2 separate regions of the Homo sapiens genome follow, and region 2 is linked to region 1. A link means that fine-mapping ties the variant in region 1 to the expression of a gene that starts in the linked region. Tissue or cell type: lymphoblastoid cells. Region 1 holds a variant in brackets; the other region holds the start of a gene. All regions are shown on one strand. Distances are between the middles of the regions.

Evidence for each region. PIP is the estimated chance that this variant, and not a neighbour inherited with it, causes the effect.
Region 2: it holds the start of QSER1, and the variant in region 1 is fine-mapped to the expression of QSER1 in lymphoblastoid cells (GTEx, PIP above 0.99).

The regions. Positions count from the first base shown.
Region 1 is chr11:31,898,883-31,906,991 of GRCh38, forward strand. No RefSeq gene overlaps it. Among named protein-coding and RNA genes, the nearest start is that of PAUPAR, 76 kb to the left of the region's middle. The variant C/T (reference allele first, on the strand shown) is at 4,519.
Region 2 is chr11:32,888,963-32,897,071 of GRCh38, forward strand. QSER1 (glutamine and serine rich 1) reads left to right here and starts at 3,849. Exons shown (of 13, transcript NM_001076786.3): 1 at 3,849-4,372. The coding sequence starts at 4,164. RefSeq lists an enhancer at 2,200-2,774 and silencers at 3,522-4,141, 4,222-4,621.

The DNA of each region.
Region 1 (8,109 bases):
CTATCAGTTCTACCTTCAAAATATGTCCAGAATCTGACTTCTTACCCCTTTTATGGCTCTGCTCCCTTCTAACTTGCCTCCCTACTTTCCTTCTCACCAACGCTATTTTCTTTTTTTAATTATACTTTAAGTTCTGAAGTACATGTGCAGAACGTGCAGATTTATTACATAGTTATACGCGTGCCATGGTGGTTTGCTGCACCCATCAACCCCTCACCTACATTAGATATGGTAGGTGTTTCTCTGAATGCTATCCCTCCCCTAGCCCCCCACACCCCCGACAGGCCCCAGTGTGTGATGGTCCCCTCCCTGTGTCCATGTGTTCTCACTGTTCAACTCCCACTTATGAGTGAGAATATGTGGTGTTTGGTTTTCTGTTCTTGTGTTAGTTTGCTGAGAATGATGGTTTCCAGCTTCATCCATGTCCCTGCAAAGGACATGAACTCATCCTTTTTTATGGCTGCATAGTATTCCATGGTGTATATGTGCCACGTTTTCTTTATCCAGCCTATCATTGATGGGCATTTGGGTTGGTTCCAAGTCCTTGATACACCAACCCTATTGTCAACACAGCAGCCGAAGTGAATCTTGGTAAAACATAAGCCAGATCATGTTACTGCCTGACTCAAGACCCTGCAATGGCTCCCTGTTTCTATCAGAGAAAAACCAAAACCCTTACAAAGGCTGCACAATCTGGGGTCCCCAGAACCTCACTGACCTCATTTCTTACCACTCTTCTTTGGCTTATTCTCCTCCAGCCACACTGGGCATCTTCTTACTTTGCAAGGCTGCTTGGGCTTTGGAACTTTCTGCTCCCTCTGCCCGAACCCTTCCTTGCCCATGTATCTGCTAGGCTGATTCTCACATCCTTCAAGTCTTTGCTTACATGTAGGGCAATCATATGTCCCTGTTTGCCCAGGACAGTCCAAGTTCTCACCTGCTGTCCCAGCATAATTATGAATAGCTTCCCTTTGTCCTGTTAAATGTTTTTCAGTTTGGATGATAAATTATATGTTCACTCTACTCAAATGTCATATTTTCAATGACTCCTACCCACTTCACTTAAAGTTTACCCTCCAAACCAACCATTGACATTCCCAATTATCCTTACCCTATGCTATTTTTTCCATTGCAATGATCACCCCGTAACCTGTTATATAATTTGATTATCTGGTGAATTTATCAATTATTGTTCATCTCCGTCACTAGAATGTATACTCCACCAAGGGAGGAATTTTTGTCTATTTTGTTCACTGATAATATCCCTGTCACCTTTCTAGTGCATGGCAGGAGTTCAAAAGGTGTTTGATTAATGCAATCATTTTGGAAGACAAAGAAGTGTAATTCCTTAGATCTTCAAATAGTTTATCAGGAAAGCAAGGCTGAATATGTGAGTGATATCAGACTGACACAAAATCCAGGATGTGTGCTTGCTGTATCGACCTGCTTGAGAAGGATTTGGAAGTCATTTATTAAAATCAGCTTTCTATCTCGATGTGCTGTGTTAGGAGCCTCTTCAGAGCAGAACATGGGGGTGAAGAAGACAATTATACCGGGAATCCAAGACAACTGAAGTAAAACTTCATTCTGAACTTCCCAGAGCTCAGGCAAAAGGGAAAAAATCAGGTTGCATAGCTTCTGTCTCCTCTCCTTGTTGCCTGATTAAAAAAGAAAGGCATTTATTCAAAGAAGACATACAGCTCCAAGTTTTATGTTTCAAGAGGGAATCATCACGTTGGCTCTTTTTAATTGGTGGTATGGATTGCGCATGTTGATTTTTTAAAGTGGGAGTAACCACACACCTTAGTGTGCCCAGGATAGTCACAGTTTATACCTGCTGTCCCAAGGAAATTGTTAATATTCAACATGTCTTGGTTTGGATGATATATTATGAGGTCACACTGTAAGGGACATTGAAGGACATAAGAGATAATTACTTTTGCCTTTACAGAGGGAATGCAGACAGTTTCCTCATATGACCTTTGGAAAGCCCAAGGCTATGAGGATAAGCTATGTTCCCTTGAGAATCAAGACACTCTTTGAGCAGCACACAGTTTCATATTTGCTCAGGATCAACTCAAATTTGGGGAAGTTCCACCATCAAGAAGCTCCTGAAGCTCAAGCTGGCTCTTGATATTTGCTGCCAAGACCCTTGTTTACCAAACACTTCAATTACAGGGTCCCCCTTCTAGGTTCATTTGCTCATTGTGGGCCTTTGCAAGATGCTGGTGAGGTCAGAGTTTTCACTGGACGTGTTTGGGGTGCTGGAGAAGTTTCCTCATAGATTTATGAGTCTCTTTAATGTGGGCTGAACTGTACCTTCCCATCCACCAATAAGATTTTTTTTTAGACAATAATACAATTTAGACCCCCATATGCTATATTTACAAACTATAGATTTCTGATGAAAAATCAATTCCTTCATTCTACCATGTTCAGTTGGATAGTACCTAAAAACAACAAAAAGTCACCTGGGTAAACTCAAGTGATTTTCTAAGACTCTAGTCTAACAATTGTCTTGGTTTACAACACCTTATGCATTTTGACCTGGGAGGGGAAAGACCTGGTTCTTTGTCTTGGCCCTGCTGTTCCTTCACCTCTCTGAGCCTTTATCTCCTCATAAGAAGGAGAGGATATGGACTCTATTTCTATAGTACCTTGTAGTTTGATTGCTATATTTCTCCTGTAGAGCTGTTCATTCAGAACATCTCAGCACTGGTGACAGGAATCTTCAGAACACCTGGTCTTCTGGGCTGTAGACATCAGAAACTCTTCAGAGCTCAACCTGCAGGCCAGCCTCAGGCCTATGAGAAGGCAGAGAGAGTTGGACTACATCCTTGGTCCCTTCTCCTCACCTTATTACTTCTCTTTTTCATAGTTCAGGAGGTGTCTTAGTCCCTTTGGGCAGCTATAAAAAACTACCACAGACTGGGTATCTTATTAACAATGGAAAGTTATTTCTCACCATTCTGGAGGCTGGAAAGTCCAATATCAAGGCATCAGCAGATTCAGTGTCTGGCAAGGGCCTGCTTCCTGGTTCATAGAAAGTCTTCTTCTCACTGAGTCCTCACATGGCAGAAGGGGCAAGGGAGCTCTCCAGCGTCTCTCATGGAAGAACACTAATCCCATTCATGAGGGCTCCATCCTCATGACCTAATCACCTCCTAAAGACCCTACCTCCAAAAACCATCCCACTGGGGATTGGGTTTCAACATACGAATTTTGGAGGGACACAAATATTTGGCCTATAGCAGGAGGGTCCTTCAACAGTGACAAGGTATGTCAGAACTAGGGTCTTGGGTAGCCCCAAACCGCAAGAGTTCTTGTCTTCACTTCTCTTTCCCCATCCATTAGTAAGAATGGATATAGTATATCCATCACAAAAATGAATTACCTATTTGGAGCACTAACCATGTGCCATGCATGGTGCTGAGTATTTTGCCACATTTAATTGTCACAATGACCCCTGAGGCAGAATGATAGTTATTCCCATTTTGTAAGTGAGGTCCTGAGTCTCCGGGAGATGACTTGCCAAAGGCCACGTAGTTAAGATGTAGCAACCTAGCATTCTAACCCAGACCTGTGTGTCTCTGAAGTGTACATGTGTAAAGCAATGTAAGCTGCTGAATTACATCTGCTGTCTTCAAAATGGCAGCCATTAATCTGATCCATTAAGCATGGGCCAATAGGAGAAACCATTACTCTGCCATTGCCTCTAATCTAACATGACCAGTGAGGTAATTTCAGGTTAGCTTGAAGTGGGGAGAAAGAGGAGATGTCCTTCAGAGCTGTACTGCTCAGAGGGCTCTAAGGTCACACCAACTGAAGCCAGAGGCACTAGGCCTGTGAGGAAGAAGGATCCAACTCCTTCGTCCCTTAGAGTGGGCCAGGGCTGAACTGTGAAGGCGGGTCTGACACCCTCTCTTCTCACGTCAGCTTCCAGGTTACCTCCAATTTGAAAGCCACTGAAGTGGATGCAAAAGGCAACAGAGCCTGAGGCCTTGGCATCTCTGCCCATCCTGCAAAGGTCAGCACAGTCTTATCTAGAACACAGCTGAGGAGGCAATTTCCTTGAATACTCGGGGCTGGGAGACACTTTCTCCCTCTTCCCCCTTTTGTGTTTCTCCTGCATTTCCACAAGGCTCCAGGACCCTGTGCTGGTGAAGTCTTTGAAGAAAGAGGGGGACACGGCTTGGGGGAACCAGCAGGGGAAGAGGGCAGGAGGAGGGAGGGCTATGTCTGGTCTGGTCTGGTCTGGTCTCCCTTTCCACTCCCACATCACACGCCTTCACCTGGAAGCTTCCTAACCTGAAGTACAAATGAGACCCCCTGGGATCCCAAAATAGCTCCCCTCACAGCTGCACAGCATCCATTTATAGCTGTGCCTCCCTACAGCCCCAGGCTGCCTCTGAGACGCACTTCTGAGGTCAGCGCCTGTGAACACCAGGCTCAATGTCGTTGGAGAACAGAAGTGCTCATAAGGAACCTATTATGGTCTTGTGACTGTTTTTCAGGACT[C/T]GCCCCAACCCTCAGAGACTTTAAAGGGCCAAATTTGTTTTGACCTACAGCCAGACCACTTTTTGTCCAACAATAACCCAGAAGCGGGTCAGATTCCATCCCCTGTGCCCAGCAGCAGGTGAGGACGTTGCACTTGGTGGCAGCAGGACAAACAGTACTGAAGTTATGCCTGGGCCTCAGGCCAAGTAGCTCGGACACCTCCAGGGAAGATCGACCATCGGGCTTTATGTATGTACGTGTTCTTTTATTAGCAATAAAACTTGGGCTATTAATTGACTTTCTTCACTCATGTTATTCATATTGATTCTGAATGCCAAATTATAAAGCAAAGAGAAAGAGCCCTAACCCCACCAAGCTGTGTTCCGTACTTCCTCTTCATACTCCATCTAAAACAAATTAGCTTTGACCCACTATCTCTCACATGGCTTATTTAGAGACGGCCCAAAATAGTCCATGAACTAAGTATACTTTGCTTTTTCACTGTCAATCCTAAGTAGAGCCACGAGGGCAGGAGTGACCCTGGCTGGCCTCTCGAGTTGTAGTGAGCCTCCTACTTTCTGCAACAGCCATCAGCACTTGTCTTCATGAAATATTTTTTGTTGAAGTGAACTCAGGCCTCATCTGGAGCTTGTCCTGGGCAATTCTCTGAAGTCAGGGTCTTTCTTTCTAAAGTTGCTGAGCAAGAGCAAGTCTTGGTGGACCTACCATATCAGAGTGGAGGCCTGACATGAGCTAACAAAAACTTAGGCCATTGATTACACACAGTTGCAAGCTAAGGCATCAGAGGCCCTCCAACAGGGGGCCAAGAACTTATGTCCTGCGGCCACACAGCTTGCATTTCTGCTACATTTCCATTAAATGCTAGGTGTGTGGCTCTCAAATAAGCTACTTCTATTCCTGCATGCCTGTGCTCCTGTCTGTGGAGGAGGTATGGTGACAGTTTGTTGACATGAGATCTTCCCGTATGGCATATGATACATATAAATCACTTGGATTAACCATCATTACTATTTTGAAAGGGAAACAAACCATATCACATATGATCTTTGTTGTATCTTATTTTTGAGCCAATGCTTTAAAAAAAAATAAACATATGCTACCAGTTTTCGTAAGGTAAACGATAATACGGCCTTCTCTCCTTCTTATTATACTGAGTCTCATTCATCTCTCAGAATCCTTTTCATTATCATTGTCACTAAAAGCATTCGGGGTTGGATCAGTGAATATTGCCTAAAAAAAAAAAAGAAGAAGAAAAATCAAAAGCCAACTAATTCAGATACATATAAAACAAAACTTTCTTTTTCTGTAAGCAAACTTAAACATTTTTTTGGTACTTTGAGCTCTCACCCTTGGTAAACAGAAGAATCATAGTCATAGCCAATCTAGGGCCTTTCCTTTCAAAGCAGGAATTGGGCTTTTATTCTGGGGTGGGGAGTGGAGGAGGGGAAATCGGTTTGGAAATTGGGACCTCTGGTCTTCAGCCACCATCCTGCAGCCTCTCTTGCATCCACTCTGAAGTTTCTGTTTCCTCTGGGATTTGAATGTTTGTCCATGGGGGTCACTTTTGCACTTCAAGGCTCTCCTGGTTTGGCTTTTTCTCGGTGTCTTTCATGCCACACAGGCAGCAGGAGCCTTGGGGAGCTGTTTGAGGAGGTTCTGTATTATCTCTGTGCCAATCTTGGGCTTTCCTCCAACCCCACGACATTCTGCGACCTGTGGGAATTCTACAAGAAGGCAGTCTCGGACCTGCTTGTCTAGACATGACCTGCAGCTACCCCAGCCGCTACCATACCTGCACATGATTTGGTGCAAGGAAACACTGAAGCATGGAATTTTCCTGGGCTCTACTCAGGAACAGGCACAGTCCCTCCCTTGTCACATGCCTTAACGTTGGATCAAGGCACAGTGCACTTCTTTGGGTACCGGTTGGCATCTACTCTCACTATTTCTTCTTCTGTTATTCTTTCTCCCCTAGCTTATGACATCTTTCACCTAGGGACAAGAAAAACTGATCATGGGTATTTCTTGTTTTCTTCGAAATAGACTTTAATTTTTGGAAAAGTTTTAGGTTTATAGCCAAATTGAACAGAAAGTACAGGGATGTTCCATATCTCCCCTGCCCTCACACATGCATAGCCTCTGCCACTATCAACGTCCTGCACCAGAGTGCTACGTTTGTTACAACTGATGACCCTGCACTGATGTGTCATTATCACCCAAAGTCTACAGATCACATTATGGTTCACCCTCGGTATTGTACATTCTATGGGTTTTGACAAATGCATAATTACATGCATCCATCATTATAGTATCATACGGAATAGTTTTACTGGCCTAAGAATCCTCTGTGCTCTGCCTACTCATTCTTCCTCCTTGCCAACCCTTGATTCTTTCACTATTTCCATAGTTTTGCCTTTTCCAGAATGTCATATAATTGGAATCATACAGGACGTGGCTGTTTCAGATTTGCTTCTTTTACTTAGTAATATGCATTTAAGTTTTCTCCATGTCTTTTCATGGCTTGATAGCTCATTTCTTGTTAGTGCTGAATAATATTCCATTGTCTGGATGTACCAGTTTATTTATCCATTCACCCACTGAAGGACATCTTGATTGCTTTCAAGTGCTGAGAATTTATGAATAAAACTTCTATAATTTTCTGTGCATGGTGGCTCACGCCTGTAATCCCAGCAATTTGGGAGGCCAAGGTGAGCATATCACCTGAGGTCAGGAGTTCGAGGCCAGCCTGGCCAACATGGTGAAACCCTGTCTCTACTAAAAATACAAAACTTAGCCAGGGGTGGTGGTGTGCACCTATGGTCCCAGCTACTCGGGAGGCTGAGGCAGGAGAATCACTTGAACCCGGGAGGCGGAGGTTGCAGTGAGCTGAGATCGTGCCATTGCACTCCAGCCTGGGCAATAGAGCAAGACTCTGTCTCAAAAAACAAACCAACAAACTTCTATAATCATCCATGTGCAGACTTTTGTCTTCAACTTTTGGGGGTAAGTAGCAAGGAGCAAGTATCTTAGTTCATTTCATGTTGCTATAACCGATTACCACAGGCTGGGTAATTTATAATAAGTAGACATTTCTTTGGGTCATGGTTCTGGAGGCTGGGAAGTCCAAGGCCATCTACTGGGCGTCAGATGAAGGCTTTCTAGCTGCATCACCCCATGGTGGAAGGCAAGAGGGCAAGGGAGAGACAGAAAGAGAAGGGAGAGGGGGAAGGTTGCTGAACTTAACCTTTTATCAGGAAACTACTCCCATGATAACAGCATTAATGCCTTCATGATGGTCACCTTCTCTCTTTGTCCTCACATGGCCTTCCTCCCTTCCCCTCTGTCTCTCTCTGTCTTTCTCTCTCCTTCCTTCATTCCTTCCACCACTGCAAACCATCACCCCTGGCTAATTTTTGCATTTTCAGTAGAGACAGGGCTTCACCATGTTGGCCAGGCAGGTCTCAAATTCCTGACCTCAGGTGATTTTTTCTCTTTCTTTCTTCCTTCTTTTCTTTTCTTTTCTTTCTTTCTTTCTTTTCCTTTCATCTCATTCTGCTGCCCAGGCTGGAGAGTGGTGGTGCAAACACACTC
Region 2 (8,109 bases), 990 kb after region 1:
TTCTTGGATCTTTCTTCTTGATGGTTGGTCTATTTATAACATAGGAATGTGTGGACTTACTGACTACATTTCTAGTTAGGCAACCCCAAATTCTGCATTTCCCAACAAGCTAATGAACAAGGCCACCTCAGTGAAGATGGGGTTTCCTGGGTCTCACCCCAACTGATTCCCTCCATCATCTTAAAGCAAGTCACTCAATACCAGGCCTCAGCTTCCTCAACTACAAAAGGAAGGCAATGAACTATGTACTCAATAGAACTACAATCTTTCTACCAGTTGAAATACTTATTTTCTTTTTTTTTTTTTTTTGAGAGGCAAAATCAATTACTTCCTTTTCAATTGTCCTCTGGTGCTTTATTCCAATTTCTATTATATTTAACACTATCCTATTGCATTACAATTAGTTGTGTGTCTGCCTCTTTTCCTCATAAATTACAGGTTCCATAAAGACAGGCGTTGTATTAAATTTACCCTCGTATTCACAGCATTTAGTATTATGCTTGGCACTGTATTAGGCTCTAAATACATATCTATTGAATGAATAAATATGTAAGCTACTTTAAAAATGCCCATTCAGGCTGGATGCGGTGGCTCATGCCTGTAATCCCAGCACTTTGGGAGGCTGAGGTGGGCATATCACGAGGTCAGGAGATCGAGACCATCCTGGCTAACACGACGAAACCTCGTCTCTACTAAAAATACAAAAAATTAGCTGGGCGTGGTGGCGGGCACCTGTAGTCCCAGCTACTCGGGAGGCTTAGGCAGGAGAATGGCGTAAAACCCAGGAGGCAGAGCTTGCAGTGAGCCGAAATCGCGCCACTGCACTCCAGCCTGGGCGACAGAGCAAGACGCTATCTAAGAAAAAAAAATGCCCATTCAGAAGTTCCAATTAGTCATTTACATATTCCTTTCCTTTCCCCCCCAAAAAAGAAAAACCAAAACACTCTATCTCAATTCTAAAATCGGGGCAAGATTTGAAAATTGATTAAATCAAAGGCAGTTTGGTTTTAAGATGAATTGGAGTAAATCCTACACTTAAGAAGGAATCTTCCAGCACTTTGGAAGGCTGAGGTGGGAGGATTGCTTGAGGCCAGGAGCTCAAGACCAGCCTTGGACACCATAGCGAGACCCTGTCTGAAAAAAAACAAAAAAAACTCTTTCCTTCTTCCTCACCTCCATCTCCCACTTCCTTCTGAGTTTATTGTCTAGAGTTAGTCATGCCTTAGAACATGCCCATGAACAATCTCCCCACATTTTCCACCCTAACTCCCATCCCATTAGAAAATCAATACGTATTTCACAGGTCGCGGTGGCTCACGCCTGTAATCCCAGAACTTTGGGAGGCTGAGGCAGGCGGATCATCTGAGGTCAAGAGTTCGAGACTAGCCTGGCCAAAATGGTGAAACCCGTCTCTACTAAAAATACAAAAAAATTAGCTGGGCGTGGTGGCATGCGCCTGTATTCCCAGCTACTCAGGAGGCTGAGGCAGGAGAATCGCTTGAATCCGGGAGGCGGAGGTTGCAGTGAGACGAGATCACCCCACTGCACTCAAGCCTGGGCGACAGAGCGAGACTGTCTGAAAAAACGAACAAACAAAAACACGGGACCAACAATGCTCATTCTAGAGTTTGACATTACCTAGATCAGACTTGAAGCAGCTTGGTTACGAATCATTTGAGAGATCCCGAAACGTTCACAGAGCTGGAAGTATATTTTCAGTAGGGAAGAAGACATTCTTCAGATAGTATCATCAAGTGTACAAAATTTTTAAAAGATTTATTTACATATATCAAAGCATCACATTGTACCCCATAAATGTATGCAATTATGATTTGTCAATTAAAAATAGTATTGATAAAAAATGTAATGATGTTATTTGTAGACATGTAACATTTGAAAATAAATATAATTGTACTGATTTAGAGTGAACTAAGGAAATTTCATTTAAATGGCAAAGGAACATATGGTGACAGAGTAATATTACTAAAAATACTCACTAGAATTTTCCCTTAATATCTTTCCCTGATTTATGTGACATAAACAAACTACATAATGGTGTGAGGGACTATAAAGGTTTTATTGCCACTTGTTTGGTATTGCCTGCGTAACTCACTCTGAGTGCCAGTTGTGGGTATCTCAAACTAAGTGTCATAAAACATTTATAGCATGCCACTCCATTTCCTATACTTTTCATAGAGACAAAACTTTAGCGCTCACAAAAGTACTTATAAATATAATAGCTAGTTGTGAAAACTTTTTAATTTAGATCCCACATTTCCAGTTTGCAGGAAGAAAAATAAATGTAATGAAGATTTACGTTACTTCTCTGCATGAACTCAGATTAGTTCGCAAATTCCTTTTCAAAGAAAAACCACTTTTCAAAGATATCCTCAGTAAATGCATTTTGTAATTAACATAAAATTGGCAAAGTCGCTGTGCCTACACGTTTGAATTCATGTGTAAATAACGACTACTCACTTCCTTGCTTCCCCACCCGGGGACCAGGCTCCAAGCATCACAGGTGCAGAAAGACTTGCAAAAAGGAATGAATAGGAACAAAAGGATGTAGGCGCCAGGAGGAAAACAGGATCTTCCAGAACAAAATTAATCTCGCAAGGCATAGCAGATCCAACACCAGATTATTACCAAAGTTTAAACTTTTTCAATGGTCATCAGAGATAGCGTATCAAGTTTATTAGGTCTTTCACTACGGCTGATTTGCTTAAACCTTTATGTTATGCTTATCTTGAGGGATAGATTTCTGTGCTAAGCACATAATAGGTGTTAAACCAATATTGATTTTTAAAAGGAGGTGGTCATTAAATAGAAATTTTACTGTTATTTTAACCTTTAAATTTATGGCCCAAGGGCCAAACGATGATTTGTACGATTCCCTAGTTTCAATACTTGTGAGTTATTACAAGAAATACAACTCTGCTATGCAACAGAAGAACCGCAAATAGTCATTAAATTACCGCACACCAAGCAGCTTGGAGATCAGATAGGAAATGTTTGGGGAGAGAGTCCTGCTGAAGTTCCAAGTCTCAAACAAAACCCCTCAACATCAGAGTGCATGGTGAGTTTAAATTTATTGTAATTAAAGTCATCCAGATGGTAGTTGGATTAATCAATGAAGAGGTGGTTATCTATCTTGGGATAGAAGATTCTGAAACCCAGAGCGAGAAAAATCCCCAAGGTGGGGGTGGGGACAGTTAATAAGAGCCCTTGGGAAAGGCCCTTTCAGCGAGGATTGGAAAATAATACGTTTGAATTTGAATCTCTTTGAATATAAATCTCCCCTAACAGCAGGAAAAGGGTCCTCTAGCCCAGCAAGCTTTGGGGAGGGAGTAAGCGGAACTGCAAAAGAGCTCGCTCAGCTGTTTCTGGATTGGGGCGCAGAGAAAGAAATCGCGATCAGGGAACTGAGTACTGGAGTCCCTCAAAATAACCCGAAGGGTCAAATAGTGAGCTCCAAGCAAAGCGTTGACCCGGCTACCCCTGAGCAGCGCCCTACGCTGGGTTCCACTCCACTTCCCCTCCCCCGCGCGGGGCGATAGCCAGGCGCGGTCCCTTCCCACGCGGGCCGCGGCGAGTGCGGACAGCTCCCTTCCGGGCTGCGGAAGGCGGGAAGTCTGCGGTTCGCGGGCTCCGGCTGGCGGGCGCCCCTCGGAGTCCCTGAAGTCGGCCGGGCCCCGCAGGACCCGCGCCTTCTCGGCCCCAACTGTCCCTCGCGAAGCGTCCTGCGGTGGCGGAGGCCTCGCGGCCGCCCGCCAGCCCCGCGAGCGGCAAGCGCGGGGCTCAGAGGGGAGGCGGGGCAAGGCCGCGGGGCGGAGGGGGGCGGGAGGTGCATCCTGGGAAATCCACCAACATGGGGCGCAGCGGCCGCCGCCGCCGCCGCCGTCGCCGCGAGTCCCGGCCGCGGGTGCCTCCGCTTCCCTGACGCCCAGCTGGGGCCTCGCCGCCCGCCGCGGCCCGGGTCTTTGCGGCCCAGACTCGCCAGCGCGCCCTTCTCCCGCCTGCTCGCCGGGGCCATGTGAGGGGGCAGCTCCCTCCACCGCCGCCGCCCCCTCTTCCTCCCCCGCCCCCTCTCCCTGCCCGCCCCCGTCACACGGAGCCCTGGAGGATCCCCCGCTGCTGCCCGCCCTCCCTACGCCACCCCCACGATGGACAGGAACTACGCGACCTCGGGCTTCACCGAGCCGCCGCCGCCGCCGCCGCCCGCGCCCCCCGCCGCCCCCGTCCCCGCCAGCGCCGCTGCGCAGCCCCCCGCCCCAGCCTGGGCGTACGAACCCCGAGCCGCCGCCGCCGCCGCCAGCAGCAGCTGCAGCAGTGGCAGCTGCAGTAGCGGCAGCAGCCCCAGCCTCAAGGCCAGGTAGGGAGGGTGGGCGGCGGGGTCGCGGTGGACCAGGAAAGGCCGGGGATGCGTTTGGGGCCTTCGCTCGGTTGCAGCGCCGCCCAGAGGTCTGGGCCGGGCGGGGAGCCCTCCGCTCGCCCTCGGCCAGCTCGGGGGAGGCGGCTGATGACTCCTACGGGGTGGTCGCGGGTAGGTGGGGGCGCCCGGTGCAGGATTCGCGCCTGGGGACGGCGGGTGAAGGAATAGCTGGGCGGGAGTCGTGGGGCTCCGTCACCTCTTGGGTCCTGGGCTCTCACATGGTGAAGTTTGGGCTCGTGGCTGAACTCGGGATCTGTGAGACCCAGGATTGGCGCCGGGGGTCCGAAGGGGGCGCCGGAGAGTTTGGGGCAGTGGCGATCCATTGTATTGGAACCTGGGTGGCCGACAATGCGGTCTTGGGGACTCCGGCGTGTGAGGGTTGCGGAGGCGGGAGAGGAAGAGTCGCGGAACCGCGTCCCGGAGACACTGGGGGGCCCGGGAGGGCTGGGCTACGGGAGAATCCCCGGGGCGCAGGGCAGAAGAGGGGGCCCGGCAGGGCGCGAACGCGGCTCCAGGGCCGGGTGACATATGTTTGCGCTGGTGGCCAAGATTTAGGCGATTTTTCTTCCACGCGTTCAAAGTTGCTCTTAGGTTTCCTCCCCTTTTAACAACAGCAGGAAGTAAGGAATCTTTCTTTGCCTTCTATGCCTCGGGGTGACTGAGAGTTGGGAAGAAATGGGGCGGGGGTTGGGGTGGGGGTAGTGAAGGCCGTAAAGGTTGAAGAACCAAAGCATGCTTCTCCATCTCGGCCTTTAAGGTCCGGGTGCATTATGTAGCGTGGGGTTCAAGAGTTCATCTTGCATGACCAAGGGAATCTAAAATTTTGACTCCTACTTGATATTTAAGCTCGCGGGAAATGTGTAGTAGTGCCACACTGTGAAACGGTCCCATTTGAATGATAACTGGAAGGCGTGGTCTGGTTTGGAGAATTGGTGAGCGGGGTGTTTTAAAGCCACCTCTCCCGAACAATACAGAATCTGGTAGGTGCAGCTTCTGATTACATGGACCAGGGAATCCTGGGTTGCTAATGACTTCATCCTCAGCTACCAACAGGAAGCTTCGTGGCTTTATGATCTCATCAGATTTCTTCATTATTTTTCACGACAGAAGTGAACTTTTGTTTTAAGTTTATACATTACCGTGTTCCAGGTTATCTTCTTTGTTTTTACGAAAGTTCTACGTTCATGATTGAGCAAATAAGTGTGAAGGGTAGCTGGTCTTTGTCTTAGATTGTCCATTGGGACGATTGTGAAAGAATGAGAAAAATTTGCTTCAAGAATAGGAATATAAGCTTTCTCAGAAAATTTTAGGCCCTTTGTTTTCAAGACTTGGGAGTTAACAAAAATAATGTGATGTGCCAATTTGGAGCTAAGTAATTAAATGCTGAAACCTTTCAGAAATAGCCATAATTTTGTATTACATACAAGTAAGCCATTTTAAGGAGTTTCATGAAAGACGTTTGGCACTTCACCCATTATTTCTTGCTGATGGTAATTTGACTATCTTTTTCAAGTAGCTTTTTGCATTGACTAGGATAATTTACAAATGAAAATTACTTTCTCATCATTGAACAGCATGATAGGTATTTGTGCCGCATTTTTTATCTTTTAAATGAAAAATATTTATTAGGTAAATGGAACTGAAATACTACCTAGTTACTTCTTTTAGTAGAATACTTCTGAGGCAAGAAACTAAAATCTACTTGTCATATTTTCCAAATGTTATTTATCAGAGTAACACGAAATGACTTCCCAAACACACTTGAAAACAGTAAGTAGATTCACTTGGCACACATAATCTAAAGGAGATTTATTTTCTGTTTACTAGAAGTTATTGAATCTTAAATATTACCCCTCATGCCCTCTCCCCCTGCTTTTTTAAAAAATAAGCGGTGGGGGGAATCAGCTAAAATACAGCATAGAAAATGCAGGTTTACCCCCCTCCCCCGCCAGCCTGCTTTGTTAACATCTTGTATTGGGATCAGGCCATCTGTACAGAGTTACACTTCTGAATTATACCTCATTTTATTCCTCAAACTGTGCAAATATTCCCTTTGATTTCAGTTATATCAAAAATGGCAAATCTGAAATATGCCTTGTAAGTCTAAATATTCTACACTTCAGAAGCTTATTTATATTTTTATACCATTTTAAAAAGCTTTTTCATAATGCACATATCAGTTGAATGTTTTTGTTCCCCTTTGTGGCAGTTTCTTGTGAAGGTGCAAATGAGTACTAGTTGTGATGATGTAATATGGATACTTATCCATAAAGAATTAGCCTGTCTGTCACCTTGTTTCCTGTAACCTATTCAGAAGCTGACAGATGGTAATGACATTCAGTTGTTGCCGACAGGGATCTAACATCCTACTTTATGCCTTCTTGGTCTTGAAATACATCATTTTCATCAGTTGATGGGAAGGTACATGATAAACAGCTTTTCATGAGTTTGAAACAATACTTTTTTGAATACAACAGCTCTGTTAGTTATTAGGTAGTTTTATTGTACTAACAGTGGAAAAATAGAGTGGGAAACTCCAGCATTATACCTTAAATGGGGCTTATAGAAAGATTTTTGAATATTTCTCAGAGTACTTGCTAGGTACTTGGAAAGTACAGGGATAAGGACTGGCCATATAAATCTTCATTTATTTATGCTAATTTCAGTTCGTTTTAGGAACTAAATGAATGAACATGTCCTTTGCTGAACACCACGCAGTTGGAAATACCTTTTGGGGTGCAGTTTTGGATGTTGTAAATACCTTTGCATAGCTTGGGAAATAAGAAGGTCATCAAGAGTCTGCAGATCCATTGCCGCATTCTGTACTTGATACTTATATCTTGGTCACAACAGGAAGAGGCAGGCTGTTTTATGGTGATAATCGATGTGTTCGTATTTGAATATGCACCAGAAAGTAAGGGAATGGAAATATTTTGTATTTAAATAGGTTTATTTATTTTATTTTATTTTATTTTTTGCGATGGAGTTTCGCTCTTGTTGCCCAGGCTGGAGTGCAACGGCGTGATCTCAGCTCTCTGCACCCTCTGCCTCACGGGTTCAAGCAGTTCTCCTGCCTCAGCCTCCTGAGTAGCTAACCACACCTGGCTAATTTTTGTATTTTTAGTAGAGATGGGGCTTCACCGCATTGGCCAGGCTGGTAATTTTTGTATTTTTAGTAGAGATGGGGTTTCACTACATTGGCCAGGCTGGTCTTGAACTCCTGACCTCAGGTGATCCGCCCATTTTGGCCTCCCAAAGTGCTGGGATTACAGGTGTGAGCCACCGTGCCTGGCCTGTTTTTTGCCTTTCTAACTTGAAATAACTTTTGGCACCAGTTTTTAGAATTCCTAATGCATACTTTTTTTTAGTATGAGGTATAATGAGTATGATAAATACTCCTCTGAAAAACCAAAGTAATGATTAGCTCTTCTAAAACCTGTCAGTTTCTATATGATGGACATTTGTTTGATACATTTCAAATCTAGAGTTTTCCTCAAGGTTTTTGGGAAAAGGCCTTATAGATCATAATTTGTAAGGCGTAAGAACAATCTCAAGTTAATGAAAGGTTATTTCAGACAAACTTCCACTGTTAGAGTTCAGAAAGTTTTTTCCCATGGAAACCGTGTTGTAAGTAATAGTAGCTGTCATTTACATCACTAGCAACTAATTTGTGCTAG